4 linked regions of the Homo sapiens genome follow. The protein of the gene in region 3 purifies or fractionates together with the protein of the main gene of each other region. This does not show direct contact. Each region holds a gene or a part of one and is shown on either strand. Other genes may lie near its edges. The genes, in order: SDHA, ANXA5, SUCLG2 and ZNF146.

Region 1 (7,026 bases), on a different chromosome or scaffold from region 3:
TTATCACTTTGCAAAACAAATAAAGGGGACACGTTGGGAACAGGCCCCCCAATGTGGCCATAAACTGTCCCCAAAACTGGCCATAAACAAAATCTCTGCAGCACTCTGACATGCTCTTGATGGCCATGATGCCCACGCTGGAAGGTTGTCGGTTTACTGGAATGAGGGCAAGGGACACCTGGCCCACCCAGGGTGGAAAACCGTTTAAGGCATTCTTAAACCACAAACAATAGCATGAGCGATCTGTGCCTTAAGGACATTTTCCTGCTGCAGATAACTAGCCAGAGCCCATCCTTTTGTTTCCCGTAAGGAATACTTTTAGTAAATCTTATCACTGGCTTGCTGTCAATAAATATGTGGGTAAATCTCTGTTCAAGGCTCTCAGCTCTGAAGGCTGTAAGACCCCTGATTTCCCACTTCACATGCTGTATTTCTGTGTGTGTGTCTTTAATTCCTCCAGCACCGCTGGGTTAGGGTCTCCACAACCGAGCTGGTCTCAGCAGTAAATATTGAAAAGGAATAGATACAATTGTCATTATTTACAGATAGAATTTCCAAACAATTCCCAGGGAATAAACTGAAAAACTAACAGAAACAAAACAAGAATGTAGTAAGGTGTCTGGATAAGAGATTTGTATCTAAAAATCAGTAGCTTTACAATGTGCCAGCAGTAGTCTGCTCAGACATCAGTAAATATCTCATTCACATTTCAAAAAAAATTGAAAATGCCCTGAAATAATGTAACCAGAAATACGAAAAAAAGGATATGAAAACATGTGGCTGCTAATGGACATGAAAGAATGTAATACTAGATTCTGAGATGCAATGTTTTTCATTTGTTCTTCCTGAAAAACCATTAGGTTGATGTGCATTACAGTGTTACGATTATGTATGAGTCTAAGGAAAATCAGATGAAATGTCCAAATTAAACCATGAAGGTGCATTGGTAGAGGAAGAGAAAATTAGGGTCAGTGGAGCAAAGCACAGTTAGAGGGAGAAGCAAGGAGGAGGAGGGATCACTGAGGTGGTGCCTGTCCCACAGGAAGCAAAAGCTGACGCCTAGTTCCCAGCATACCTACAGTAAACTTCAGGTCCACTGCATAGCACGTCTCTCATCACAGTAAAACTATGAAGGAACTCAGTGTACAAGGAGCTTCTACAAGATAGGCAGAAGACAGTAGCCAGATGGGCCAAGGGCCCCAGCCACCCACGCCCCTCCCTCTCCTTGAAGACGTGCAGCTCCAACACCACCATCACCAGGGCTCTGCTCAGCTCCTCCTAGTGTGTATCACCACAGGGCTGCTGGCTTGTGTCACGTTCACCACCAGACCCCGCGTCAGGAGTCCCGCCAGGGGTGTGGAGAGGCAGCGCTGCCTGGTTGGCCGTGGAGCTGTATGGAACATGGTGCCTCACAGGCAGTCTGCTTGGAGTCCTGGACCCTGGCTGTATCCTGCTGGAAAGGATGTGTGTGGGTCTAAGATGTGTATGTAATAGAAACATTTATTTATTCAGAAGCTTTAGTCAAAACTTCATTTTTAAGTTTGGAGTAATAAACTCATAGTCTGAATTTCCTAATTTTTCTGTTTAATTTATGTAACTTTTAAGTGAAATGCAAAACAACAGGTCTAAAAGTTAAGCAGTTCTTGGTATGGCTGCTTCTATGGATTAAAAGTTTACAAATAATATTTTGTGCCACAGTCAATGCAAAATCATGCTGCCGTGTTCCGTGTGGGAAGCGTGTTGCAAGAAGGTTGTGGGAAAATCAGCAAGCTCTATGGAGACCTAAAGCACCTGAAGACGTTCGACCGGGGTGAGCAGACAGTGGGCTCTGTGCACACTGTTGGGCCCTTCCTTCTGCAGGGTGGGCTGGTGTCTGTCCCGTCAGTGCTGACTTAGTTCCGTGCTTGCTGTCTGGATGGGTCCTGGCCCACAGCTATAAAGCCACAACCAGTGACTCCATGGACTAGCAGGCCCAGGCTGACAGCTCGGAGGGCCCATGTGACTGGGTCCCGCCTGCCCCTGATGGAACTTTTTGTGTCCCCAGGAATGGTCTGGAACACGGACCTGGTGGAGACCCTGGAGCTGCAGAACCTGATGCTGTGTGCGCTGCAGACCATCTACGGAGCAGAGGCACGGAAGGAGTCACGGGGCGCGCATGCCAGGGAAGACTACAAGGTGGGCCTTCTCACCACGCCCACCTGCACCTGCCTTTTCCTGCCACCTGGTGGGACTCAGCCCCACCCCTGCATTTTCTCTGCATTTTCTTTCGTTGCCCCAAAAGTAAATCCAAAAAATGCCTTTTTCCCCCCTGGTAACTTTGATCCCTGGGTTCTCGCCATCTTCTGGATCACTGTGACCTTTTCCTTGCTTTGGGTCGGCATCCACTGATGCCAGCAGTGGCATCTCCAAGCCAATGTGCTTTGCTGTTAGAAGGCCAAGGTTAGAAGTGCAGCTAGAGTGGCAAGACCAGGAAATAAATGCCAGTTTATTAAATAACGAGTAAGCCATCATTTCAAGCCTGCCCTGTGGAGGAAATGCCAGTTTATTAAATAACGAGTAAGCCACCGTTTCAAACCTGCCCTGTGGAGGAAATGCCAGTTTATTAAATAACGAGTAAGCCACCGTTTCAAACCTGCCCTGTGGAGGAAATGCCAGTTTATTAAATAACGAGTAAGCCACCGTTTCAAGCCTGCCCTGTGGAGGAAATGCCAGTTTATTAAATAACGAGTAAGCCACCGTTTCAGACCTGCCCTGTGGTGGAAATGCCAGTTTATTAAATAACGAGTAAGCCACTGTTTCAAACCTGCCCTGTGGAGGAAATGCCAGTTTATTAACGAGTAAGTCACTGTTTCAAACCTGTCCTGTGGAGGAAATGCCAGTTTATTAACGAATAAGCCACCGTTTCAAACCTGCCCTGTGAAGGAAATGCCAGTTTATTAAATAAGGAGTAAGCCACCGTTTCAAGCCTGCCCTGTGGAGGAAATGCCCGTTTATTAAATAACGAGTAAGCCACCGTTTCAAGCCTGCCCTGTGGAGGAAATGCCCGTTTATTAAATAAGGAGTAAGCCACCATTTCAAGCCTGCCCTGTGGAGGAAATGCCAGTTTATTAAATAACGAGTAAGCCACCGTTTCAAGCCTGCCCTGTGGAGGAAATGCCAGTTTATTAAATAACGAGTAAGCCACCATTTCAAACCTGCCCTGTGGAGGAAATGCCAGTTTATTAACGAGTAAGTCACCGTTTCAAACCTGCCCTGTGGAGGAAATGCCAGTTTAGTAACGAGTAAGTCACCGTTTTAAGCCTGTCCTGTGGAGGAAATGCCAGTTTATTAACGAGTAAGCCACCGTTTCAAACCTGCCCTGTGGAGGAAGTGCCAGTTTATTAAATAATGAGTAAGTCACCGTTTCAAGCCTGCCCTGTGGAGGAAATGCCAGTTTATTAAATAACGAGTAAGTCACCGTTTCATACCTGCCCTGTGGAGGAAATGCCAGTTTATTAACGAGTAAGCCACCGTTTCAGACCTGCCCTGTGGAGGAAAATGCCAGTTTATTAACAAGTAAGTCACTGTTTCAGACCTGCCCTGTGGATGAAATGCCAGTTTATTAATGAGTAAGTCACCATTTCAGACCTGCGCTGTGGAGGAAATGCCAGTTTATTAAATAAGGAGTAAGCCACCATTTCAGACCTGTCCTGTGGTTTGGAAAAGGTATTATAGAGCCTGCCCTGTGGTCACTTGTTCTTCAGATGAACTGATTTTTGTGCAGAGCGCACGTGTTGGATTCTGCCTGGTAAGAGTTTTTCCCATATGATAGCAAAAAACGACGGAAAGGGAAGCTTGGGATGCAAATGCAAGTTCAGGATAAACCACATCAGCAAAAGGACAAAGGCTCCACAAGGCAGGCGCACAGGCTGGTTCAGGACCGTGTGTAGGCGGCTGGTGGCAGCCTTTCCAGTCAGCTGAACATGGTGAATGGGAAAATCATTTTTATTCACCATGAAATTTTACTGATTTACCCTCCACTAGAATATGCTGATGGCTGTGATCACTGCTCAGAACTTGCTCTTGTCTCCTTGTATGTATTAAGAGTTTCCTGCAAAGTATATGAATCCGTGTTTGCCAGAATACAGAATAATAGTAAATTTATTATTTTTATTTTTATTTTTTTGAGAAGGAATCTCACTGTCCCCCAGGCTGGAGTGCAGTGGCGTGATCTCAGCTCACTGCAACCTCTGCCTCCCGGGTTCAAGTGATTCTCCTGCCTCAGCCTCCCAAGCAGCTGGGATTACAGACACACTGCCACCATGCCTAATTTTGTATTTTCAGTAGAGATGGGGTTTCACCATATTGGCCGGGCTGGTCTCGAACTCCTGACCTCAAGTGAACCACCCACCTCGGCCTCCCAAAGTGCTAGGGTTACAGGCATGAGCCACTGTGCCTGGCCAGTGCATAAATTTAGTTGGTCACAGTCAGTTTTAATTAGAATAGAAGCCAGGTGCAGTGCCTCACACCTGTAATCCCAGCATTTGGGAGGCTGAGGCAGGCCAATGACTTGAGCCCCAGAGTTGTAGACCAGCCTGGGCAACATGGCGAAACGTGTCTCTACAAAAACATAAAAAATGAGCCAGGTGTGGTGGTAGCACAGGAGGCTGAGGCAGGAGGATTGATTGAGCCTGGGAAGTCAAGGCTCCGGCAAGCTGTGATCACACCACTGCACTCCAGCCCAGGTGACATAGCCAGACCCTGTCTCAAAAAAAAAATTTTTTTTTAATAAAAACAGGCTGAAAGAAAAGATTGAGGTAGTCTCCCAGCACATGGAGCAAAAAGACAAAGTATTTGATAAACTCTTAGGTACATAAAGGATGCTTAAGGGAACATGCGGACATGGATTACTGTGGACTCACTGCTGGCTGCACACCCCCTGGCCAGCCATGCGGCCTCCGTGGGTTCTGAACATGTTGATGGTGCCAACCTCCTGGGCTGAAGTGGAAATGGAATGAGTTCTAGGGCATCTGTCTCTTAGATCATGTTAATGTCTGCTGTGTTTTTTCTGTATTGCTCTGTTAGAGTAATAAGAAACGTGATGGTGTTTCTGGCCTCAGGTGCGGATTGATGAGTACGATTACTCCAAGCCCATCCAGGGGCAACAGAAGAAGCCCTTTGAGGAGCACTGGAGGAAGCACACCCTGTCCTATGTGGACGTTGGCACTGGGAAGGTCAGTGTGGAGCTCGTTCTCACCACAGCCCAGCACCCACACGGCCCCGCCCAGGCCTGCGGGCTGGCCTTGCTGATGGTGAACGGGGAAGAGCAGGCCAGATTTAAATCAACTCCCGACAGATTCGAGGCACCGCTGAAAAAGGCACTCCGACAGCAGTCGGGCTTCGGGCTGGAAACAGAATCCAGTTCCTGCAGGTGGTTCAGAGGAGCCTTAAGGAAGGGTTGCTCCGTGGTGTGCGCCAGATGGACGTCACTGGGCAGGAGCAAGTGTCCAAGGCCTGGTGGTAGGGGAGGAGATGATGATTGTGGACCTAGCGAGAAAGCATCTGTGGGGTGGGGACACACAGCCATTACCAGAAACCAGTCCCACGTTAAGGGAGCCCAGAAGAGACACCTCCCCTCTCCTCCCACGGGCTGGGCCAACTGGAAGCGTCTGCAGGGGAGCTGAGGGGATGTGGTGCAGCCTTTAGCATCCCCTGGGCACTGAGCAAGCAGAGAAGGGCAGAAATGGAGGTGGGGTTGGGGTGAGCAGTGTCCTGGGAACAGCCAGCCGAGGGTGTGGTAGGGGGTCGCAGCCTTTTTCCACACACGGTGAGCAGCGTCCTGGGAACAGCCAGCCGAGGGTGTGGTAGGGGGGTCGCAGCCTTGTTCCACACAAGCACAGTTCACCTGTGTGGCATTTCCGCTGGGCATTAAGATTCAGAAATAATGAAGATAGAAAGCTTTTACCCTTAAACTTTTCATAGCTTGTAAGAGTCGTATAATCACTTAGCTGTGTCTGTGGAAGTTACCTTTGGACTCTCACTATCATCTAGTGTGTCTGTGATTCAGGCAGTAGGTCATTTTCAGGACTTCTCATGAAGGCCATTTCTTGATAGTGTATAGAAATCACACTTCACTCGCTTAGCACAAGTCTATTTTTAATGTTTCCGGGTTCGGGTTTTTTGGTTTTTTTTTGTTTTTCTGAGATAGAGTCTCATCTCTGTTGCCCAGGCTGATATGTGTTGGCTTGATCTCGTCTCACTGCAGCCTCAACCTCCCCCAGGCTCAGGTGATCCTCCCACCTCAGCTTCCTGGGCACATGGCACCATGCCTGGCTAATTTTTATATGTTTTGTAGAGATGGGGTTTCTCCACGTTGCCCAGGCTAGTCTTGAACTCCTGCGCTCAAGTGATCCACCTGTCTTGGCCTCCCAACAGGCATGAACCAACACCCCCAGCCAGTTTTAGTGATTTTTCAAGAAATACATACTCATTTTAGAAAGTACAAAGAGATTGAAATAAGAGCTCACTAACCAGAGACGACCCATTATGGTTTAAATTTCTTTGTATATGTGCCTACCTTTTCCTGTGTGTGCATATTTAATACACAGCTTGAGTATTCCTTCTCTGAAATCCTTGGGACCAGAAGCGTTGTGGATTTCAGGCTTGTTCAGACTTTGGAATATTTGCATTATACTTACTGTCTGAGCATCCCTAATCGGAAGATCTGACTCCATAGCACATTTCTTTTGAATGTCATGCTGGTGCTCAGAAAGTTTCAGATTTTAGAGAATTTCAGATTTTTGGATTAGGGATGTTCAACCTATATAAATATTTACTTTGAAGTAGAAAAACTGGAAGTAGATGGTTTAAACATAAAGTGTCTTGGTATAGACAAGGGTTCTCCCACTTTACATGATGGGAGCATTTTTGTAAAGCACTGAGAATCTTAAAGTTCACATGCCATAAATCTACTTTTATAGTTAAAATTTTTCAAAAGGAACACAAGAGATGGCTTTTTGTACATTTTTGTGCTTAACTTACCACTGA
Region 2 (7,026 bases), on a different chromosome or scaffold from region 3:
GTTAGGCAGGATGAATAAGTTCTGGGGATCTCATGAACAGCGTGGTGACTATAGTGAAAGTATAACTATTATATGCTTGAAATTTGTGAATACAGTATATTTTAAATGTCCTCACCACACACAAAAATATAGACTATATGAAGTGATGGATATGCTGATTAACTTGATTGTGGTAATCATTTCACAACGTACACATATATGAAAACATCATGGTGTATACCTTAAATATATACAATTTTTATTTGTCCATCATAACTCAATAAAGCTGGGAAAAAAAGACTAGGTGCATTTTGAGTAGGTAGAAAAGATATTTTTGGGTGAGGTACTGCCTGTCTTTAATGGCATGGAGACTGGACTGTGGAGAGTGTATTGAGGGACGGAGAGGGCCTGGCTGCTGTGGAGGATGTGTGCATGTCCATTGTGGGAGGTAAATGGAACAAGCGAGGTTAGGCTCAGATATAGATGGTTTTGCATGACTGGATTAGGAATTTGGACTTAATTCACAGGCACTGTAAATTCCTGAATGAGCAGTGGAGTGCTGAAGGAACAATTGAGGGAGGAAGGAGATTTGAATTGAGAGGCTAATTGGATAGTTATGTGTGTGGGAGGTAAGCTAGGTATTTAGGAATTGTGGCCCAACCTAGGTGAGTGAGAGGTGTGAGGAGGATAAATCAGGGACAGGAGAAACGTGATAGGATTTAATGGTTAATATTTACAGGTGTTGGTGTAGAAGAAAGAATTAAAGATTCCTACAAGGTTTTGTATTTGGGTAACTTGTTGAAATAAACATGTAACTCTTCTGGGCCTTTTAAAATAGAAGTTTCAGGCTTTTAAAGTTCGTTTGCTTTTGCATAATAATTAAATATTTAAATACCTTAGAGTAAGGCCTCCTTTCCTTTAATAGCATCTGTTTGAGAGTAGTGAGAAAGACTTGTAGACTCTTGTAGATCCCAGTTCTCCCCTTTTATATGGGCTTACATTGAGCAGCTGGAAATAGAGGTGGGAGGGGGGCCTACTTTAAAATATCATTGCTGTCTCTCAAGAGTTAACTTTATTTCTGCAGAGGAAAAATACCTTATTAGGAGTGATGGCCATGCCCAAAGAAATAAATCTCAGAATATTAGAGATAGAAGACATTTGGAAGCTAACCATATAAAAGATTTGAAAGAAAGCAAAACAGAGTTTAAGCTTATGATTGATTGTGTTTTGGAGACTTTCCAGTACCATCATGTATCTATAGATTAATGACTACATTGGTCGAGAGAATTTCTAAATGGCTGAGTCTTGATTTAAGTTTGAATTGAGTGCCTTTGGGAGACTTTAATTCATTTTTGTCCAACCACTCACTGAAAGCATTTGCTTAGAGCATTCAGAGATGGAATAGAGGGAATTTATGTTAACCAAATATAATTATTTCTTCTTTTACATCGCTTTCATTTGATTAATGGGGCAAGATTACTTTTCTAGTTGAAAGAAGATGTAAATAAGTATGAAATTATTTTGTTGCAGAATATGGCTCAAGCCTGGAAGATGACGTGGTGGGGGACACTTCAGGGTACTACCAGCGGATGTTGGTGGTTCTCCTTCAGGTATTGCGTGGAGATTAATTACAGTTTGATTAAAAAGCCTGAAGTTGGACTGGGCTGAATCTAGTTAAGTAAGGTCACTTAAAATTCTTTTAATAATTTGTGGTACTTGCTGATTCTTACTGCGATGATTCTGACTGTATGTTGCCTGTGCTTGTTTGTGTTTCAGAATATCTGGTCTAAATTCTTAACAGCTAACTCATACATGTTTTAGATAGTAGTATCTTGTTCCTTTCATAGAATGATAGCGGTATCTTGTTCTTTCATAGAATTTAAAATCAGTAGGGTCATTATTGGTTTTGGACAGTGCTGGGTGATGATAACGTGAAATAGTGCAGGATTGATCTTAATAAAAGCATATTATTCCTAGAGAAAGAGTGTTATTGAATAACCATCAGGTGGAACCATTTTTCCTTTTGAATGAGAATGCTCTATAGTTCAGTAATGTGACATATTACCTCTCATAGGCTAACAGAGACCCTGATGCTGGAATTGATGAAGCTCAAGTTGAACAAGATGCTCAGGTGAGTGACACCAGGATATGATGACTTTATTATGCTGTAGAAATGAAGAAATAATTCATGGTAATGAAAAATCACAATGTATGTTGTAATAGCTTCTAGTGATAATCTTGTTAATGGGTTATTTACATAGCATAAGACCTACATAAGTAGCTTTTTCTTATTCTGACCTGGTCAGCAAAATATTTTACCTTAAAGCTGAAACGAAATAAAATAAATTATATAGTGAGTTCCAACTAGACATGTTTTTTTTTGTGATTATTGAACATTCACAAAATAGAGAATTTTACCAAAAAACAGTGTTATTACTTCCACTGCCAATTATGCAGTGGGTCTCTTAGCAGGAGAAGATAAAGAAGAAAGAATAAAGTATTTAACAGTAAGTGGTGTTTAATTACATAAGAGATGACAAGTTATTTTGGTATTAGGAAATTTCTCTGCATTTCCTTCGACAGAATTTTAAGTAGGATTGGTCTTCTGTCAGCAGCTTTTTAGTGACTCCAAATGAAAATTTCCTCTTAAGTGACTTATAAACCCCTATAAAGTCTCAGTCTGGTTAATAAAACAGTTATTAAAATATAGGAAAGGAAATTTGAAACATGAGAGCTGAAAACTGGAAATTGGTAATAAAGGAATTACTTGGGTTCCTAGAACCACCAATCATAGACCTCTTTCTGGTCACATGTTTCAATTAAGAGAATATACAATTCTTGGTTGTTTGTCATGTATCATTGAAAAAGGAAGAGCCATATTCATTCCTCCAGTGGAACAACCCATGGATATGCGATCTCACTTTGCTAACAGGAAAGAGGAGAGCGGTTATTCTTTTGGGTAGGTTGATTTTATAATGGTTTCAGAATGCTGTCATCTCTGTCTAGCTGGAGAGAAAAAAAGAACTGAATGTTTACCGAGGGCTCTCTGTGCAGTATTTGACTCTTGCTTCACTCTGTCTTAGAAAATGCAAGCCAATTGTGTCCAGCCCCTTCAGACTCTGGTGGTTCCATTGCCCTCAGGATAAAGTCCGGGTTCCTGAATGGGTTACAAGCCCCTTTGTTATCTGTGTGTTGTTTACTTATGCCTCCAGCCTCTCTCACATGCTCTCTCTGCCCTCTTGCCCCTCCCACCCCGCTTCACCTGAGTCCTCTTCAAGAGTCAGTCTTCAGCTTAGATACTTTAGAGTTAGGTGCCCCTCACAGGGAAAACCATACCCCCCCCCGCCCCCAGGCTTCCTGTCACAGTTCTTGCCACGTTCTCTGGAAGCCATCTATTTACTTCACTGCCTTCCTGGGCCCCCTGAGCTGTCAGTTCAATTGTATCCTCAGCTTCTGGCATAGAGTAGGTGCTCAGTAAATAACTGATGAATGAATGAGCACATAACTCTACCAGAAAGGGGCAATTTCCCTTTTATGGATAAAGAAACAAACCCATGGCTTCCACTGAATAGCAGTGGAGTTGGAATTCCTAACGAGGCCTGTCTGACTCCAAAGCTCTTTCTCTTTCACTAGAAGATAGTCAGTGTTATTGAATATTAATATTTCACTATAAGAATATTTCACTGTAAGATATTCAGTGTTCTTGAGTATTAGTGCCTTCCCTGATTTTCTCTATCATTAAAGGGCTTATTAAATATCAACTCAAGCATAGATCTAGCTTAATTCCACCTTCTTTCGGGAAGAGGGCTAGAGCAACCCTACAGAGTTGTACTCCTGTTAGGGGCTTTGTTCAGTACTGAGGTGATCTTACTGCTTTCCAAGCATTGGTTGTGGCTTTGCTAGGAGATAGTGCTGATTCTCTCATTCCTACTGTCAAGAGTAGGATAGGAGTTCTGGGAGCTTTTCAGGGTCACAGTGTAAGAAACCAACTCTAGTCCTCTCAGATGTCTGCAGTGAGGCCTGCATTCACAGGCAGAGGGCAGATTTCCCAGCATAGTTGGTGATGTAATGAGAGCATTGCTGCAGCACGAGGCTCCTGAGGGGAAAACAGTACATTTTAACCTTGTTTTCATTGATTTCTGTCCTTGGAGCACTTACTGGATAGCACTGCTGCTCAAACTTTCATGGGCATGTGGCGCACCTGGGACCTTTAATTGCAGATTCTGATTCTATGGGTCTGGGCAGGGGCTGGGAGTCTGGATTTTGAACATGCTCTCAGGTAATGCCTGCATTCTTGGTCCTTTGATTACTGAGGCTGTATAGGTGACACTTACGTGTCATGCAGTGGATATAACCATTCAGAACCCTGAGAGTACATGTGAGACTGTACATGTGAAAACTGCTTTATGGAGTTACTTTAAAGTATCCCTTGAATGGAATCCAAGCTTTTCTTAGCCTTCCAGTGACTAGGAGCAATACAGAACATGTTACACTGGCTATTATTTTTGATTCTTTCAAATGTATTATTATTAATTAATAAACCTGTTGAAAACAAATAATCTTTTGGCATTATAAAAAGGAACACACCAACTTGTACCTCGTAGCAAGGGCAGCTGGACTGTTATCACTAGTGAGAATTTGAGATTTCTTAATTGAGAGTAAGCTGAGACAGCTAAAGGGCTCTTTTATAAGCTTTTGCATTTTTGTCTCTACTGATACCTGGCACTAAGAAGATTTCTATTATTTGAGAGGTTTGATAAGCCATAGTGAGTCATTCACTTGGGAACTGAACGTTTTGTAGATAATCCACTTTTTAACATTTTTAATGTGTTAAATTGATTTAATACTTTTAATGCATTAAAACAGATTTACCTTCTTCCCCAGTAAATCCTTGTTTTATTCTTTCTCTGGAGGGAGAGTTGAACTCTTAGAGGAAAGAGGGAGAAGGAGAAGTAATCAGGCACTTTTTACTTTTACTGGGCATTTGCTACTGATTACCTGACACTGTTCAGTGCATTATCTTAGTTATATAATCTCCGTTAATGACTATATACACTGAGGCTGAAGAGGAGATTAAGTAGTTCATCTGAGATCTTGCAGATAGACCACATCTGTTTTGACTCCAAAGACTCATCCTTTGCACTGAACCAGGGCTTATGAAACTGTACTCAGGCTGAACCGTAAAGCTTAGGGAAGGGGTGTAAGGGTCCCTCATCCAGATGGATCCATGAATATTGGGCATCCTCATTTAGGAGAAAGGATACTTAGATTAAAACAAAACTGTTAAATATCATTGTTTTACATGAAGAAGCCATCATTATTATTGCATATGATTACTTAATAATAGTTTTACAGTAGATATTGATCCCAAACATAATTCTCCCAAGAAAATTAAAACATTGTGGTAAAAATAACTGACATCTCACCAATTATTCCCATATAACAGGCTTAACTCCTGTACCTACTAGAGAACATTTCTAGACATTTAAAACAGTTGATAAGAAGTGTGTGCATCAATGTCTGTGATATTGTACAAGATGAGTCCTTTACCCATTTAGGTGTTAATGTATTTGTATATTTTATCTACATGTAGAAACATACCAGAAGTAGTAACTAGCACCCTCAGGAAATTGATATTAAATAGCAACTTTTCTTTTCTTTCCTTTCTCTTTCCCCTTTCTCCTTTTTCCTTTTCTTTCCTTCACCTTTCCTTCCCCTCCCATTTCCTTACCCTCCCCTTTCCTTCCCCTCCCTTCTCCTTCCTATCCCCTCTCCCTCCCCTCCCCTCTCCCTCCCCTCCCTTCTCCTTTCCGCCCCTCTCCCTCCCCTCCCCTCCCCTCCCTCTTCCCCTTTCCTTTCCTTCGTGCCCAGGCTGGAGTGCAGTGCCATGATCTAGGCTCACTGCAACCTCTGCCTCCTGGGTTCAAACAATTCTCTTGCCACAGCCTCCCGGGTAGCTGGGATTACAGGCATCTGCCACCGTGCCTGGATAAGTTTTGTATTTTTAGTAGAGACAGGTTTTGACAGGTTGCCCAGGCTGGTCTTGAACTCCTGGGCTCAAGCGATCCACCTGCCTCAGCGTCCCAAAATGCTGGGATTACAGGCATGAGCCACTATGCCTAGCCTGCAACTTCTATTTTCTTATTTTTGTTCTTTCTTAGTTTTATAAAATTTCTCAATGAACTTGCGTTGTTTTTGTAATTAAATTTTAAAAGTTATTTTAAGAAAGGTCTGTGTCATCATGATATAGTTCTAAAGTTTAGATGCATGCATGACTTTCAGAGTTACTGTCTTTTCAGGTTTTAAGAGCATGTTCACATGGCCAGAATTGATATTATTCATTTTTATCTTTAAAATAATTAATTTTAAAATTGAGCATAAAGATACATGAGTCTCATTTTTTTCTTATTCTCCAGAAATATAATAAAAAATAGATCTTTACCACCATAATCTACATTTTTAAATATACTGTGATCAAAACTTCTATATTCAAGCCTGTTATTATCACTTCCTGTCTTTATTTGGATTGCTGCTTGTGGGTATAAGGCCAACTGCAAGTAGCAGCCTCAGCAAATTGCATTCATCTTGCTTTAATATGTAGACTTAGTTTGAAATGAATAAAAGGATAGTACAGTCATTGTAAAGGTTGATTCTTTGGGTTTTAATAAATTATTCTCACGTCAATAAGTGGATTCAGAGTTAACGTTGATGTTTGTATATAAGCTTATTTTTTTAGGCAGCTATACGTGCACAAGAAAGCATATTTTTTCCCCATGTCAAAAAGGAAGTATGGGCACTCAAACTATTCAACCACTACTTATTGAGTGCTTCTATATGCCAGGCACTGTGCTATACCCACAATCTTTTAAAAATTTATTGTGATCTTTGGAAATATGAAAACATTTTATAGCTAGCCTTGGTTAAATCTCAGTTGTAAAGAGAAAATATGAAGTGTACTTTTACTCATGTGCTATTGAACAGCTATAGAACAAGCAAAACAGAAAAGGCAGACAACTTAGCTTCCAGTTAAATCCTTTCCCAGTCTAT
Region 3 (7,589 bases):
TTCCTTGACCACTACTCTCTATCCTCTTCTTGGAGGCAACCACTTTAGACTCTTAATACTTTTGTCTGGCATTTGTACATCTCTGTAATTCTCCAGTGCTATCAAGATAAATTACAAAGTGTCAGGGGTCTCCTAACCTACATCTCAGATTGGCCCTAGTGTTTCACATTTGATATCAAGCAAATATTTGTTATGGACCCACTAGAGGAAGAAAAAGAACATCTATGAAGTCTTTACTATGTGCAAGGTCTTTACATGCAACATCTGATCATTGACTACTTACTACTACCCTATGAACCAGGTATTTTCCTAGTCACAGGTGTTCAAGGGGGTGGAGGTCAGATTTGAATCCAATCCAGTTTGGCTGAAAACTTAATGCTTGTTCCAGGAAAGCACAGTGCAGAACTCTGGTAGAATCTAGATTCCCTGTTCTCAAAGAGATTCCTATTTGGGGGAGGTTGGAGGGTGGAAGCGGGGAGTATGAAATAGGGAGAAATCTTACGAGGAACTCTATAATGCAATTCATTCCACATATGTTTATTGATTACTTTTTCTAATCAAAGTCCAGTGCTAGACACTGGAGGTGCTACATAAATGGTTCTCTTTCTTCCTTCTGTCCCTTCTCCCCTACCACCTTCCTGCAGAGAAGGCAGAATGAGATAATACGAGTAAAGACACTGAGGAATTGCTGATGAAAGATTTGGACCCCAGAACCAAGGATGAGACAGTCTTCCAATTCAGACAGGAAAACTCTTAGGAGGCTGCTAACCCTGGAAAGACCCCAAGTTACGCACCAGTAGATAGTAAACAAATCAAAGAATACCAAATGTACTTGGATGACAATCAGAAAGCCTCTCCCGACTCCACTTTCAAAAATCCCCCCATAATAGAATAATCGCATCTTAAAAGAACACTCATCAATCAAAGACAGTCTTAAGAGTCTCTCCTTTATCTCTATAAAACTAACACTTCTTTCAAACGACTTCTAGTCTCATTTGGAAGGAAAGTGATAGTAGCCAACTCCCTTAGCATAGTAACGTCTGAATAAACAGCCTTTGATTAATTCTATAGGTGGTCTTCCTCCTTTTGGCAAAATGTTCACAAGCTCTCACCAAGTTTAAACGTTCACTCTCAAACATTAGCAAGTCTTTGCTCTATCCCGGCGGACCCAGTAGGGGTAATGATGAACAATATGGAAACTCAAATCCAGTTTTGTCAAGAGGAGGGTGCTAAGAGTGATTGGAGTCCAGCTTTGGGAAATTTGATCCCAAGCTGTGTCACCCTTGGCAAGTTACTTGACCTTAGAGTCATGTAAATGTCATGTGGAACTCTGTGGCCAAGTTTCTCTCTGGCAAAATGGGAATAATAGTAGGACCCCATTTGCAGGGCTCCTGTGAAGATTAAATGACTGAAAACAGAGGCAGCAGAGTGTATGTATCAGGAAAGAGCATCGGTTTGCCATTTAATAAAAAAGAATCCATGAGTCCACAGTGATACAAGTGAATAAAACAATTCACCGACGAATAGTGTTACAGTGAACTAAATATGGCCTAAGGAGGACTCGGTACTTCTATATTTGAGTCCTTGTGGACGAACTGCAACCTAGCTTAATAGGTAGACAAGATTGAAAACCTAACTTAGAAGTATGGACCTAAAACAACAGCTAAGTCTTGGCAATCCCAGTGGCCATATTTTAACCATTTATACATTGCTGAGTGTTCAAACTGTGTAAGGCAAATGCCAAGCTGTAACCAATCCAGCTGTTCTGTACCTCACTTCTGATTTCTGTAAGTCATTTCCCTTTTTTCCTCTATAAATCTTCTTCCACCACGTGGCTGCGCTGGAGTCTCTGTGAATCCACTGTGATTCTGGGAGCTGCCCGATTGGCGAACCGTTCATTGCTCAATTAAACTCCTTTACATTTAATTTAGCTGAAGTTTTTCTTTCATCAATGGAGATGATGGAAAGAGTGCAGTTTTTCTGAGTAGAATACAGACTAATAAATGTAGGATGGAGTTAGACCTTGCCACTTTGCCACCATCGTGACAATAATTGATTTAAACAATCATCATCATCCTTATCATCAAAAGATGCTACATCTAGTGGGTAAAACTATGTCTCGAAATGGGCTAGAAATTATATTAAAATAAAAATCCTCAGCTCCCCCACTTTCCAAAGAGAGAGATTAGGAAAGAAGCTAGTAGCAACAGCTGTCTACTTATGTCACATTGTACCTTTTTTCATGATCATATGCTCAAGAATGAGTAAGGTTAAAAAAAAAAATCTAAAATAGTGCTTAATTTGGGGGTGGGTGGAAGGGATGTGAATCTCATCTCTTATCAGACCTGCCACCTCTGGCAAGTTACTTAACCTCTGTGCACCTCAGTTTTCTCTTCTGCAAAATGGGGATTGTACACTTCTACTCATTTAAAACTTTGCTATGAAGACTAAACAAGTTTATATTTGTCTAATGCTTGGCACACATTCAGTAACTTTGCTGTTGTTTTTATTATATGCACATTGCTTAGACTCGCGTAAACTCTGTGAAAGGGAAATAATCTTGGGACTCCCAAATCACTAAGGTAAAGGGAAAAGTTAAGGTGGGAACTGCTTAGGGCAAACCTGCCTCCCATTCTATTCAAAGTCATCCCTCTGCTCACAGAGATAGACGCACAGCTGATTGCTTCCTTTGGAAAGGCCAATCAGAAACCCAAAAGAATGCAACCCTTTGTGTCTTATCTACCCATAACCTAGAAGCCCCTCCTTGCTTCCAGTTGTCTCGCTTTTCTGGACCAAACCAATGTACATTTTACATATATTGATGTCTCATATCTCCCTAAAATGTATAAAACCAAGCTGTGTCCTCCACCACACCTTGGGCACATGTCAGGACCTCCTGAGGCTGTGTCACAGGCACGTGTCCTTAACTGTGGCCAAATAAACTTCTTAAATTGATTGAGACCTGTGTCAGGTATTTGGGGTTCACAGCTCCAAATGAATGTTGCTTTTATCACTCTGATTACTGGGCTTAAAATCCTCCAATAGCTTTGTGTCCGGAATTGGTTCCTTCCCGTGGGTTCTTAATCGTCTCGCTGACTTCCAGAATGAAACTGCAGACCCTCGCGGTAAAGATGGCGTGACCAGAATTTGTTCCTGCAGATGTTCAAATGTATCTGGGGTTTCTTCCTTCCGGTGGGTTCGTGGTCTCGCTGACTTCAGGAGTGAAGCCGCAGACTTCACAGTGAGTGTTACAGCTCTTAAAGGTGGCCCGTCCGGAGTTGTTTGTTCCTGCCTGTGGGTTCGTGGTCTCGCTGACTTCACGAATGAAGCTGCAGACCTTTGCAGTGAGTGTTACAGCCCTCGAAGGTGGGGCATACGGAGTTGTTCATTCCTCCCAGTGGGTTCGCAGTCTCCCTGACCTCAGGAGTGAAACTGCAAACCTTTGTGGTGAGTGTTATAGCTCATAAGGATAGTGCGGACCCAAACAGTGAACAGCAGCAAGAGCTACTGCAAAAAGCAAAAGCACAAAGCAACCACAACCTGGAAGGAGACCCCAACTAGGGGCCACTACTGGCGCCGGTGTCCAGCTTTTATTCCCTTATTTGGCCCCACCCTCATCCTGCTGATTGGTCCATTTTACAGAGTGCCAATTGGTCCATTTTACAGAGTGCTGATTGGTCCCTTTTTAAAGAGTGCTGATTGGTGCATTTACAAACGTTTAGCTAGACACAGAGCGCTGATTGGTGCGTTTTTACAGAGTGCCGATTGGTGTGTTTACAAACCTTTAGCCAGACACAGAGCACTGATTGGTGCATTTACAATCCTTTAGCTAACAGAAAAGTTCTCCAAGTCCCCACCTGATTAGCTAGACACAGAGGGCTGGCTGGTGTATTTACAAACCTTTAGCTAGACACAGAGCGCTGATTGGTGCATTTACAATCATTTAGCTAGACAGAGAAGTTCTCCAAGTCCCCAACCGACCCACCCGGCTTCATCTCTCAGCTTTACATTGATTTTAGGTTAAGGATAGAACAAAACAAAACACCCACAACTCCTTAAGGGATGGAGAGCCTCCAATGGCCTCTCCTTGACTCACCTGAAGCCCTGGGCTGCAGGAACCTCACCTGTCTCTATTCGTTAAAGTCTCAGCTCAAACACCACTGTCCCAGATAGGCCTCGTGACCGCAGGACTAGACCACGGTTCTCTGCGGAGGGCGTCAGCTCCGTGAGCCACCCTTCCAGCACCCACTGCCATGGCGAATATTTGCTTGTTTGGCCATCCAGGGACTGTTTGAGCCCCAAGACCGCAGGGCTCGGGGTCTGTCTTTGCTCAGGACGATAACCTGGGGACTGGACAGTAGGCCCTCAGGCCTTGGGACCGCTCAAAGTGAACCGGGGCCGGGTGGGGGACCCAGGGCTCTGCAGCCTTAAGAACGCCTGTGCCCCCGGGACGCAGGGGTCAGGCCCGGCCCGGCCCAGACCGCCTCTGCCTCCTCCTCCTTTTCCTCCCCGCGCCCGCTTCTCCTCTGACCCCTCCTCCCGCTGCTCCTCCTCCGCCTCCTTCCCCTGCCCGCGCCCGCCCTACTGCCCCGTGCCGAGTTTCCTGTTTAAGATGGCGTCCCCCGTAGCAGCGCAGGCCGGGAAGCTTCTGCGAGCCCTAGCGCTGCGGCCCCGCTTCCTGGCGGCCGGGTCCCAGGTGAGCGTGGGGGCAGGAGCTGCGGGCGCCAGCAGCGGCGCCGGCCTGCCCGGGCTTCCCTCGCCCCCTGCTACTCTTGGTCTCCGCCTGACCCCCTGCGCGGCCCCTCGGGCGCCCCACTTCGGGAGGTGACGCGGCGCCGGGTCCAGGCGCAGCAGGGAACCCCGCTCCAGTGTGGGGCAGGGGCGGCGCGGCGGCAGCCCCGGGTGCCTCGGGGTATGAGCGACCCAACGCACTAGAGTCTCCGCTGTCTGCCCGCGCAGACTCATGGCGAAGGCGCTGAAGCAGGCGCTGGACGCAAGTTTAAGAAAAGTTTCTTGGACCGGGTTTTGGAGCCCTGAGGTTTTATTGTCAGCTCTACTAATTCTGCTTTTCAAACTTCTGGCACTAACCCTGAGCACGTTTAGACCACGTGATAAACATGCCTGGAAACCCGTTTCAGCCCAACTAGGAACTCACCCCCTAGGGTGAACTTCCTGCAGGCTACCTGCTTTTGCAGACTTTTAATGTGCCTGAGTTGGTCAAATCCGTGGGTCAAGGAGAAAAATGGGAAACGATCTTTCTCCTCTTTCCAATGAAAAATCAGGGCTGTCACTAAAACGCATTAGACCATTGACCCTGTCCATGTCCTCCTTGTTGATGGAGAATGAAATCAAAGAGGGTCAGTGGTGGGCTGGATAGCGATTGGAACTTGGCCTCTAGCAGATTTTTACCTTCTGCAGATGGCAAGCGTTAAAATAGTCAGAAGGACTTCAGGAAAGTTTTGAGTTGGTGATGACTCTTGTAGAAATCACTCAACCACTGAACTGGTTAGTCTCCGTAGACTATCTCTCTTCCCTTTTAAAGAAAGCACAGTCTGGGATTCAGCCACAGCAGAGTTAATGACCTTGCCTATTTCCCCATTTTTAATTGATGAGAGGCAAATTATCACTCATACAATTTTAACCAGGATGTGCATAGTATAGTTTTTTAGAAAATTTAAAAAATAGTGATTAATGATTTTTTGAGTTCCTCTAAACTTTGGTTATGACATCTGTGAGCTATTTTTACCCCTCTCCTTTCATTTCCTGCCTCCCCATTTCTCTGTTATTGTTAATGTAAATTTAAAAGGTGCTAATACTTACTACTGTAATATTCTTAATAGGTGCTTGACAGTATAGTGAGGTAGCAAAAGGAATGGCAGTTTTGTCTAATTAAAACTCACTAATAACTGTTGTAATAGAGTAAGGAGAATAGCTCTAGGAGATGAAGTCCTATTCATTATTTAAGTGTTAGAAAAAACAAGAACTAGGGTGCTTACCATGAGTGTAGACTTGAATTGATGAGAAACATGGGGCCCAGGGCAGTGAAAACTCATGAATTGTACAGAGAAACTGAAAATGCAGAGTGTTTAGCTGAAATATGTGAAGCCTACTTCCCTAACCAAGAAATAAGAGGCTGAACGCAACACAGGAGAAAATCTGGTTGGGGAGAGATACTCTTGGTTTGTCAAGAAAACTGGGTAAAAAGATCTGTTAGCACGCCCCATCTGGTTACTGTGATTTACATATTTGTGGATGATGTGTTTTTCTGTAAATTCTTAGAAGGTAAAAGTAGGTTTTTTTAAAGATAGAAAGGTACACAGTGTCCAAGAACTGGAAATGGACATTAGCAATCATTTAGTCCAGCCAGCTCATTTCATGGGTAGAGAAATTGAGGCCTAAAGAAGTTCAATGACATATTCAACGATACAGTGAGAGTTTGTGGCATTCCAGAGTAAAGGCTTACCTTTACGTTTCCGTTACACCATGCTGTTTCCTGGTGAGTATATACTTCCTCATGAAAATATATTATATCAACATGCAAATTAATCTGCATGCCAGTAGTAACTATATAACATCCAAGTCATTAGCACCACTGACACATTTTTATTTTTTTCTTTATGACCATCTTAGAATTGTCCATAAAAATGGTGAGTATTGCTATTTTCAAATTCTTGGGTGCTTCCTATGATCTGTTTCATGTACACTGATTTGATATTACGTTTCCATAGTCCCTTGCCCGTGGCAGACATTGCAGTTAAACATGGCCCACTTCTCTCATCATACTTAAGAATCCTCACCAAGTGTCTCAGAAATCTGTTGCCACTCTTGGCCCAGACCTATTTTATACCACCAGGCCTTGTGAAAAACTGTTGTCTGTACAGAAATAAAAGACCCAGTTTCTGCTTAGAGAAATAACTTTAACTGGTCTCTCAAAGATACCCATAGAATGACATTTTGTCTACCTCCTCCCTATGGTTAAATTTAACATTTGACACATATTCCTGATGCTTAGTGTCATTGAAGTTTTTTTTTTTTTTTCACCTTTGCTGTTAGCTTTACTGTTTTGACTTTTGATTGATAGTACGTCCTTAAAGGGTCCACTTTAGTCATTTCTTATTTTTCATATAGTTTTTATTCAGCCCATACCATTTGGCAGGACTGTTGTAGGCCCTGGGGTTTGGGGATGGTGAATGAGGCAGGCAGAGTCTTTGGCCACGTGATACTTTATTTTAATGGAGGTGGGAGAGAGTGAGCCAGTACACATATAACCAATAATGAAAATGATTTCAGCCAATGACAGATTCTGTGAAGAAAATCAGTCAGGGTCATGGGATGGAGAATGGATTGCTTCACAGCAGGGTAGTTTAGACTGGATGATCAGAGGAGACCTATTTGATATGGTGTGTTTTTGATTGGCATAATTTTTTAAACTGAAATATAAGACATACTGAAAAATGAACAATTACAAATGAACAACTTGATGAATTTTCATAAACTGAATGCAAACCCAGCTAACTAGGTACAGATGAAGAAAACGATCATTTAACAACAACCCAGAGGCCCCCTGGTGCTCCTGCCTGTCACTACCT
Region 4 (6,952 bases), on a different chromosome or scaffold from region 3:
AGGTGGCTCACGCCTATAATCCCAGCATTTTGGGAGGCCAAGGTGGGCAGATCACCTGAGATCAGGAGTTCGAGACCAGCCTGTCCAACATGGTGAAATCCCATCTCTACTAAAAATACAATTATTAGCCGGGCGTGGTGGTGTGTGCCTGTAATCCCAGAAACTTGGGAGGCTGAGGCAGGAGAATCGCTTGAATCCAGGAGGCAGAGGCTGCAGTGAGCTGAGATCATGTCACTGCATTCCCAGCCTGGGCAACAAGAGCCAAACTCCAACTCTCTCTCACACACACACACACACACACACACACACACACACACAATTCTAATTAATAAACATAGAAGTGGCCGGGCGCGGTGGCTCACGCCTGTAATCCCAGTACTTTGGGAGGCCAAGGTGGGTGGATCACGAGGTTAGGAGATCGAGACCATCCTGGCTAACACGGTGAAACCCCATCTCTACTAAAAATACAAAAAATTAGCCAGGCGCGGTGGCAGGCACCTGTAGTCCCAACTACTCGGGAGGCTGAGGCAGGAGAATCGCATGAACCAGGGAGGCGGAGCTTGCAGTGAGCCGAGCTCGCGCCACTGCACTCCAGCCTGGGTGACAGAGCAAGACTCTGTCTCAAAAAAAACAAAAAAAAAAAGAAGAAAAAATAAACATAGAAGTGATGATGGAAACAAACCCCAAAACCCCACCATTTGACAAATAGCTGGTAACAACTTTTTCAGGCAAGCGTCATCAACGGATAAGACTAATAGATGAAAGGAGGATAAGAAACGGGATATTCACATAGGCTTAAAGTATTTCTTCACAAGACATGTATCAATTATAATGGGAAAAACAGTGACTTTGCAGCAGAGAAATCTGGCAATCACCGTCTTAACCAAGCGGTTAAAATTAATACCACTCATAGTGTAACGAATTGACCTCGTGGGTCCCTGGCATGATGCGCCGAGAAGGGTACATCGCTTTCGGAGTATTCTTGCCCCAAAGGCAGAATCTGAATTTAATCAACAGGAAATATCAGACAATTCCAAAGAGAGGAACATTCTACACTGCAGACTCTACAAAACAAATGGCCAACATGGTGAAACCCTGTCTCTACTAAAAATACAAAAAATTGGCTAGGCGTGTCAAAGGAGTTACAAAAAGGAAAATGGAGACCAGACATGGTGGTTCACATCTCTAACCCAGCACTTTGGGATGCTGAGGGAGGAGGATCACTTGAGGCCAGGAGTTCGAGACCAGTCTGGCCAACATGGTGAAACCCCCCTCCCCCCGTCTCTACTAAAATTACAAAAAATCAGCTGGGCACGATGGCATTTGTCTGTAATCTCAGCTTCTCAGGAGGCTGACGCAGGAGAATCGCTTGAGCCTGCGAGGTGGAGGTTGCAGTGAGCTGAGATCACAGCACTGCACTCCAGCATGGGTGACAGAGCAGGACTCCGTCTCAAAAAAAAAAAAAGAGCAAATGGGAATTCTATTGTTGCTACATTTTAAAGTCTTAAATTCAAAATGAAAAGTAAAGAAAAAAATTTAAAAGAACATTAGGTATGCAGGGAGCAGGGAGGATATAGGCCTTTCAGTCCATCTCCAAGGCACGCAGTAAATTACTCCTATGGCAAATACTGGAGACCAGGTTACTTTGGTAGGGGTGAGGGTGGTGGTGGGGTGGTTCTGAAGTTTCAGAAGAAGGAAAGAAAAGCATGTCCTGAAAAACAAGAAGGATTTCAGAGAAATAAGAATAAAACCTGATGTACTTGAACTTGGCACCTTTCTTGGAGAAGGGTTAAGAGCAAGGAATCATGAACAACCAGGTCATTTTTGAACCACCATCCTCCTTACCTACCATATAGGGAAGTGTGGTCACAGAACACCAGGCATCTGCCTAAATCCAGTGTCACTCAGAAGGCTGAGGTCACTCCTGTCCAGGGCCAGAATCTGTCCTAACTTCAAAGGTTCTGCATGGGTCAAGCACTAGAGTCACTGGCACACTTGGTGCTGCACATACAGTCAGTGTCACACAAACATAACCACACATCCACTCTTTTATTTTTTTGAGACAGGGTCTCGCTCTGTCACCTAGACTGGAATGCAGTGGTTCAAACACGGCTCACTGCAGCCTTGACCTCTCAAGCTCGAGATCCTCCCACCTCAGCTTCCCGGGTAGCTGGGACCACAGGTGTGGGCCACCACACTCAGATAATTTTTAATTTTTTGTTTGTTTGTTTTTGAGACGAAGTCTCGCTCTTGTCCCCCAGGCTGGAGTGCGATGGCGCGATCTCGGCTCACTGCAACCTCTGCCTCCTGGGTTCAAGCGATTCTCCTGCCTCAGCCCCCTGAGCAGCTGGGATTACAGGCACCTGCCACCACGCCCAGCTAATTTTTGTATTTTTAGTAGAGACAGGGTTTTATCGTGTTGGCCAGGCTGGTCTAGAACTCCTGACCTCAGGTGATCCACCCGCCTCGGCCTCCCAAAGTGCTGGGATTACAGGTGTGAGCCACCGTGCCAGCCATTAATTTTTTTTTTTTTTTTTTGTACAGGCCAGGCTGGTCTCGAACTCCTGGGCTCAAGTGATCCTCCCACCTCGGCCTCCCAAAGGGCTGATGTGAGCCACCACACCCGGCCCTACATCCACTCCTGAGACACAGGACACAATCACAGACACCTCTATACCTTTCCAGTCACAATATCTTTCCAGTCACAATCACACACCCGCTAAGACACACCCAGTCACACAATCTACTCTCCACTGTGATACAGTTACTCCCGTATAGTCACAAGCCCCACACACCAACACCCACAAATGCCTCATATAGTCACAGTCACACACCCACTCAGGGGACACACGCCATCACTGGTACTTTACGGCACCCAGTCACAACTGAACTTTCACTGTGGACATACACACAGTCACACTCACACAAGCAACCCACACAAGCAGTGGCACCCCACTCCCGCATACACAGCACCACACACATACACACAAACACACACACCAAGGGATACAGGAATACACAAGCGGCGTCACCACACAGTCACAGGCACAGGCAATTGCACACGGCCACAGTGTCACACAACCAAAACCACGCACACACCTTGGAGACATGAATCACAACCGCACACCCGCAGTGGTCACACAGTCACAACTGTACTCACACCCCAGGAACAGGGCGAACAGGCCACATATACAACGGGGACACACGCAGTATCACCCCCGGTCACAAGGACCCTGCACCCCGATACTCTCTATCACACATGGTTACACAAAAACCACCAGACACCCTGGAGACAGGCGGTTACACGTGCACAGTTGCAGACACCCACACCCAGCCACACAGCCACAAAGACACATTCAGAACGGCGCATCCGCAGCCAGCTCCCGCCTGCGCGCACAGATTCGAGGCTCCGGACACGCCCCGGCCCCGCCCAGGACTCCCAGACCCCTCACCTTCTGCCTCCCCTGGTCGCGTCCGGGTCCTTGCGGAGCTAACTAGCTCGCCACGACGTCAAGAACGACGTAACGTCAGGCCGCTGTGGGCTCTGGGAATTGTAGTCCAGAGCTAGATCGGCCACGGACAGAATGGCGTTCTCTTATCTCTGAGTCGGGGCCTGGCTCGTTTTGACATTTTTGCGCCCACGAGTCTTCGGAGAGGGCGTCGCCACTCCAGACCTTCCAGCAAGCTTGAAGTCATCTGACGCTAAAGGACTACTTACCTCAAGAGCTCCATCGTCACAGAAGGAGGCGGCCAAGTTCGCGGGGGGAGGGGAGGAGACAGAGAGTCGACCAGTAAAGCCTCAAGGGAAATGTAGTCCAAGGCCTGAGAAGCGACGTTGCTGGTAATAGAAGGTAATTCAGTACCAGCCTGGGCCTGGCCGCGGTGACCGAGGCGGGCCGCGTCGCGGAGACTTCTGGGAGTGCTTCCTCGCTCTCCGAGTGCGCAAGCGCAGCGCACCGAGTGGACATTTTGGTCTTTGTCCGCGGGTCAGTACGGCCCCTGGGTCCACGTGGCGCGAAAGTAGGAGGTGGGATCTGGGCGTCTCGGGTCGGTCGGACCGGGGAGGTTAAAGGGGAGGATTCCTGATCTTTAGGGGCGCGGCGCGAGGGCAGGGAGTGGGTGTAAGAGCTTCTGGCCTACGTGCGGGGCGGAGATGGGGGCCTCTGAGGCGGGTTTGAGCGAGTGTGACCGAGTTTGTCCTCAAAGTTTGACCTGATGTTTGGGATTGTTGAGTGAATGTGAAACTGGGTGCGGGATTGTGTGTGATTGTGCCTAAGAGGGAGATGTAGGAGACCAGCATTGAGGTATAACGTTTGAGCTGCACTTCCCTTGTCGAAAGTGCTGATAATTATAACGGTGCCATCTTCCTGGAGCGTCTTTTTTACTTGAAAATTGAAGGGGTGGAAAAGCTAAGTGGTGAATAATTTTAAAACGAGTTTTTATATAAAAGCATTTCTTTTTAATTGGAGTGGCATGCAAATCACCGTGACTTTTTTTTTTAATTAAACGAGAGTGTTTCGAAGGAACTTTAGTTTCGGGGTGCCTACTTCAGACTATTCAAATCCCCATCTTTGGGGTACTTAAATAGGGCTGTTAAGCAAAGCCCTAGACTAAACAGCATTGTACGCTTTGAGAAGCAATCCCATATAACGGCGCCCAGGATGAGGGAGTCAACGGTTTTAGGTTAGGCACAGTTATCCTCATTTTTTGAAGAAAGCTTAATTGTTGCAGTGTTTATCTATGAGTCTGGACTAAATCCTAGGTGTCTTAATTCCTTAATGAGTCGAGGCGTTCTCAGGTTGTATGGATTTTGTGAAGTAATGGAGAATGCTACTGACGTCTCCAAAGATGCGTTTTCTAAGGAAATCACCCCGCCCCCGCTGTCGTCATTGACATAGTTTTAAATTACAAAAAGTTAAATAAAGTAATTGGGTACCAAGTTAATATCTATAAATAAATAGCCTTCTAATTTACAAATATCAGTTAGAATACATAGTTGAAGAAAACTAATATTTACAATAGCAGTAAAAAGATAAAGTATTGTGGAAGAAACTTAAAGGTTCAGAACTATTAGGAAAGAACTTTAAAATACTACTAAGGGGCATAACAAATGTGAACAAATAAATATACCATGTGACATTAAGAAGTGTGCGCAAACTTAAGTGAATGTATTAATTTACTGTGATCTTGGTCGGGTGCGGTGGCTCATGCCTGTAATCCTAGCACTTTGGGAGGCCGAGATGGGTGGATTACCTGAGATCAGGAGTTCGAGAGGAGCCTGGCCAACATGGTGAAACCCTGTCTCTACTAAAAAAAAATAAAATAAAAAAATACAAAAATTAGCCGGGCGTGGTGGCGGGCGCCTGTAATCTGAGCTACCGCGGAGGCTGAGGCAGGAAAATCGCTTGAACCTGGGAGGCGGAGGTTGCAGTGAGCCCAGATCTCGCCACTGCACTCCAGCCTGGACAAGAGCGAGATTCCGTCTCAATAATAGTAATAATGTGATCCTAATAAAAGTATGGACAGGCTTTTCTCTTTTGGAACTAGGGGAACTGATCCTAGACTTACTATGGAAAGAGACAAGCTGCAAGAGCCAGTACAGACTGAGAAAGAAAAGGCGTTGAGGTGTGGGGAGATGGGGACCCAACACATTTTAAATATAAAGCCTCAGGCCGGGCTTGGTGGCTCACACCTGTGAGCCAAGGCAGGAGGATGGCTAGAGTCCAGGAGTTAGAGACCAGCTTGGGCGACATAGTGAGATCTCCCGTAGTCCTAGCTGCTTGGGAGGCTGAGGTGGGAGGATCACTTGAGCCTAGGAGGTCAAGGCTGCAGTGAGCAGAGATCCTGGCGACAGCATTCCAGCTTGGTGGACAGCCAGTCCCTGTCTTTTTTTTTTTTTTTTTTTTTTTTTGAGATGGAGTCTCTCTCTCTTGCCCAGTCTAGAGTGCAGTGGCCCAATCTCTGCTCCCTGCAACCTCTGCCCCCCAGGTTCAAGCGATTCTCTTGGCTCAGCCTCCCGAGTAGCTGGGATTAGTTGCCTGCCACCACACCCGGCTACTTTTTTTGTATTTTTAGTAGAGACAGGGTTTTACCATGTTGGCCAGGCTGGTCTTGAACTCTTGACCTCAAGTGATCGGCCCGCCTCGGCTTCCCAAAGTGCTAGGATTACAGGCATGAACCACGGTGCCTGGCCGACCCTGTCTTAAGAAAGAAAGAAAGGAGAGAGAGAGAAGAAAGAAAAGAAAAACAGTTCATGCCCATCAGTGGGAGATTGGTGTACATCGATACAACAAAATAATACATAGCTGTACAAAAGAATGAGGAGGAAGCTCTTTATATACTGAGACAGAAATAACTTCAAAATGTATTGTTAACTGAGAGAAAGCAAGGTGCAGAATGTAGAGTATGATACACGATGCATTTGGAATAAGAAAAGGGGTAATAAGAATATGTATTTATAATCCCAGCACTTTGGGAGGCCAACGCAGGCGGATCACCTGAGGTCAGGAGTTTGAGACCAGCGTGACCAACATGGAGAAACCCCGTCTCTACTAAAAATACAAAATTAGCCAGGCGTGGCGGCACATGCCTGTTAATCCCAGCTACTTGGGAGGCTGAGGCAAGATAATTGCTTGAACCCGGGAGGCGGAGGTTGCAGTGAACAGAGATTGCGCCATTGCACTCCAACCTGGGCAACGAGAGTGAAACTCCATCTCAAAAAAAAAAAAAAAAATTCAAAAGATACATACGAAATAATAAAACTGGCTGTTGGGGTGGGGGTACTGGAATAGACAGGGCAAAGGCTTTGTATTTTTAGTAGAGACGGGGTTTCACCATGGTGACCAGGCTGGTCTCGAACTCCTGACCTCATGTGATCTGCCTGCCTCAGCCTCCCAAAGTACTGGGATTACAGGCATGAGCTAATTTTTTTTTTTTTTTTTTTAAATTAAAG

What was found.
Region 1: the proteins of SUCLG2 (region 3) and SDHA fractionate together in Homo sapiens (co-fractionation; 3 studies listed by BioGRID, with this or other methods). This does not show direct contact.
Region 2: the proteins of SUCLG2 (region 3) and ANXA5 purify together in Homo sapiens (affinity purification with mass spectrometry; 2 studies listed by BioGRID, with this or other methods). This does not show direct contact.
Region 4: the proteins of SUCLG2 (region 3) and ZNF146 purify together in Homo sapiens (affinity purification with mass spectrometry; 3 studies listed by BioGRID and IntAct, with this or other methods). This does not show direct contact.

The regions. Positions count from the first base shown.
Region 1 is NC_000005.10:249,294-256,319, forward strand, and holds part of SDHA (succinate dehydrogenase [ubiquinone] flavoprotein subunit, mitochondrial), read left to right. Parts: intron 1-1,698; coding exon 1,699-1,810; intron 1,811-2,044; coding exon 2,045-2,175; intron 2,176-5,099; coding exon 5,100-5,213; intron 5,214-7,026. UniProt on the Homo sapiens protein: Flavoprotein (FP) subunit of succinate dehydrogenase (SDH) that is involved in complex II of the mitochondrial electron transport chain and is responsible for transferring electrons from succinate to ubiquinone (coenzyme Q).
Region 2 is NC_000004.12:121,672,978-121,680,003, reverse strand, and holds part of ANXA5 (annexin A5), read left to right. Parts: exon of another isoform or gene 1-1,509; coding exon 1,510-1,589; intron 1,590-2,053; coding exon 2,054-2,110; intron 2,111-7,026. UniProt on the Homo sapiens protein: This protein is an anticoagulant protein that acts as an indirect inhibitor of the thromboplastin-specific complex, which is involved in the blood coagulation cascade.
Region 3 is NC_000003.12:67,651,610-67,659,198, reverse strand, and holds the start of SUCLG2 (succinate--CoA ligase [GDP-forming] subunit beta, mitochondrial isoform 2 precursor), read left to right. Parts: upstream 1-4,586; 5' UTR 4,587-4,612; coding exon 4,613-4,696; intron 4,697-7,589. UniProt on the Homo sapiens protein: GTP-specific succinyl-CoA synthetase functions in the citric acid cycle (TCA), coupling the hydrolysis of succinyl-CoA to the synthesis of GTP and thus represents the only step of substrate-level phosphorylation in the TCA.
Region 4 is NC_000019.10:36,211,170-36,218,121, forward strand, and holds the start of ZNF146 (zinc finger protein OZF), read left to right. Parts: upstream 1-3,936; 5' UTR 3,937-4,027; intron 4,028-6,952.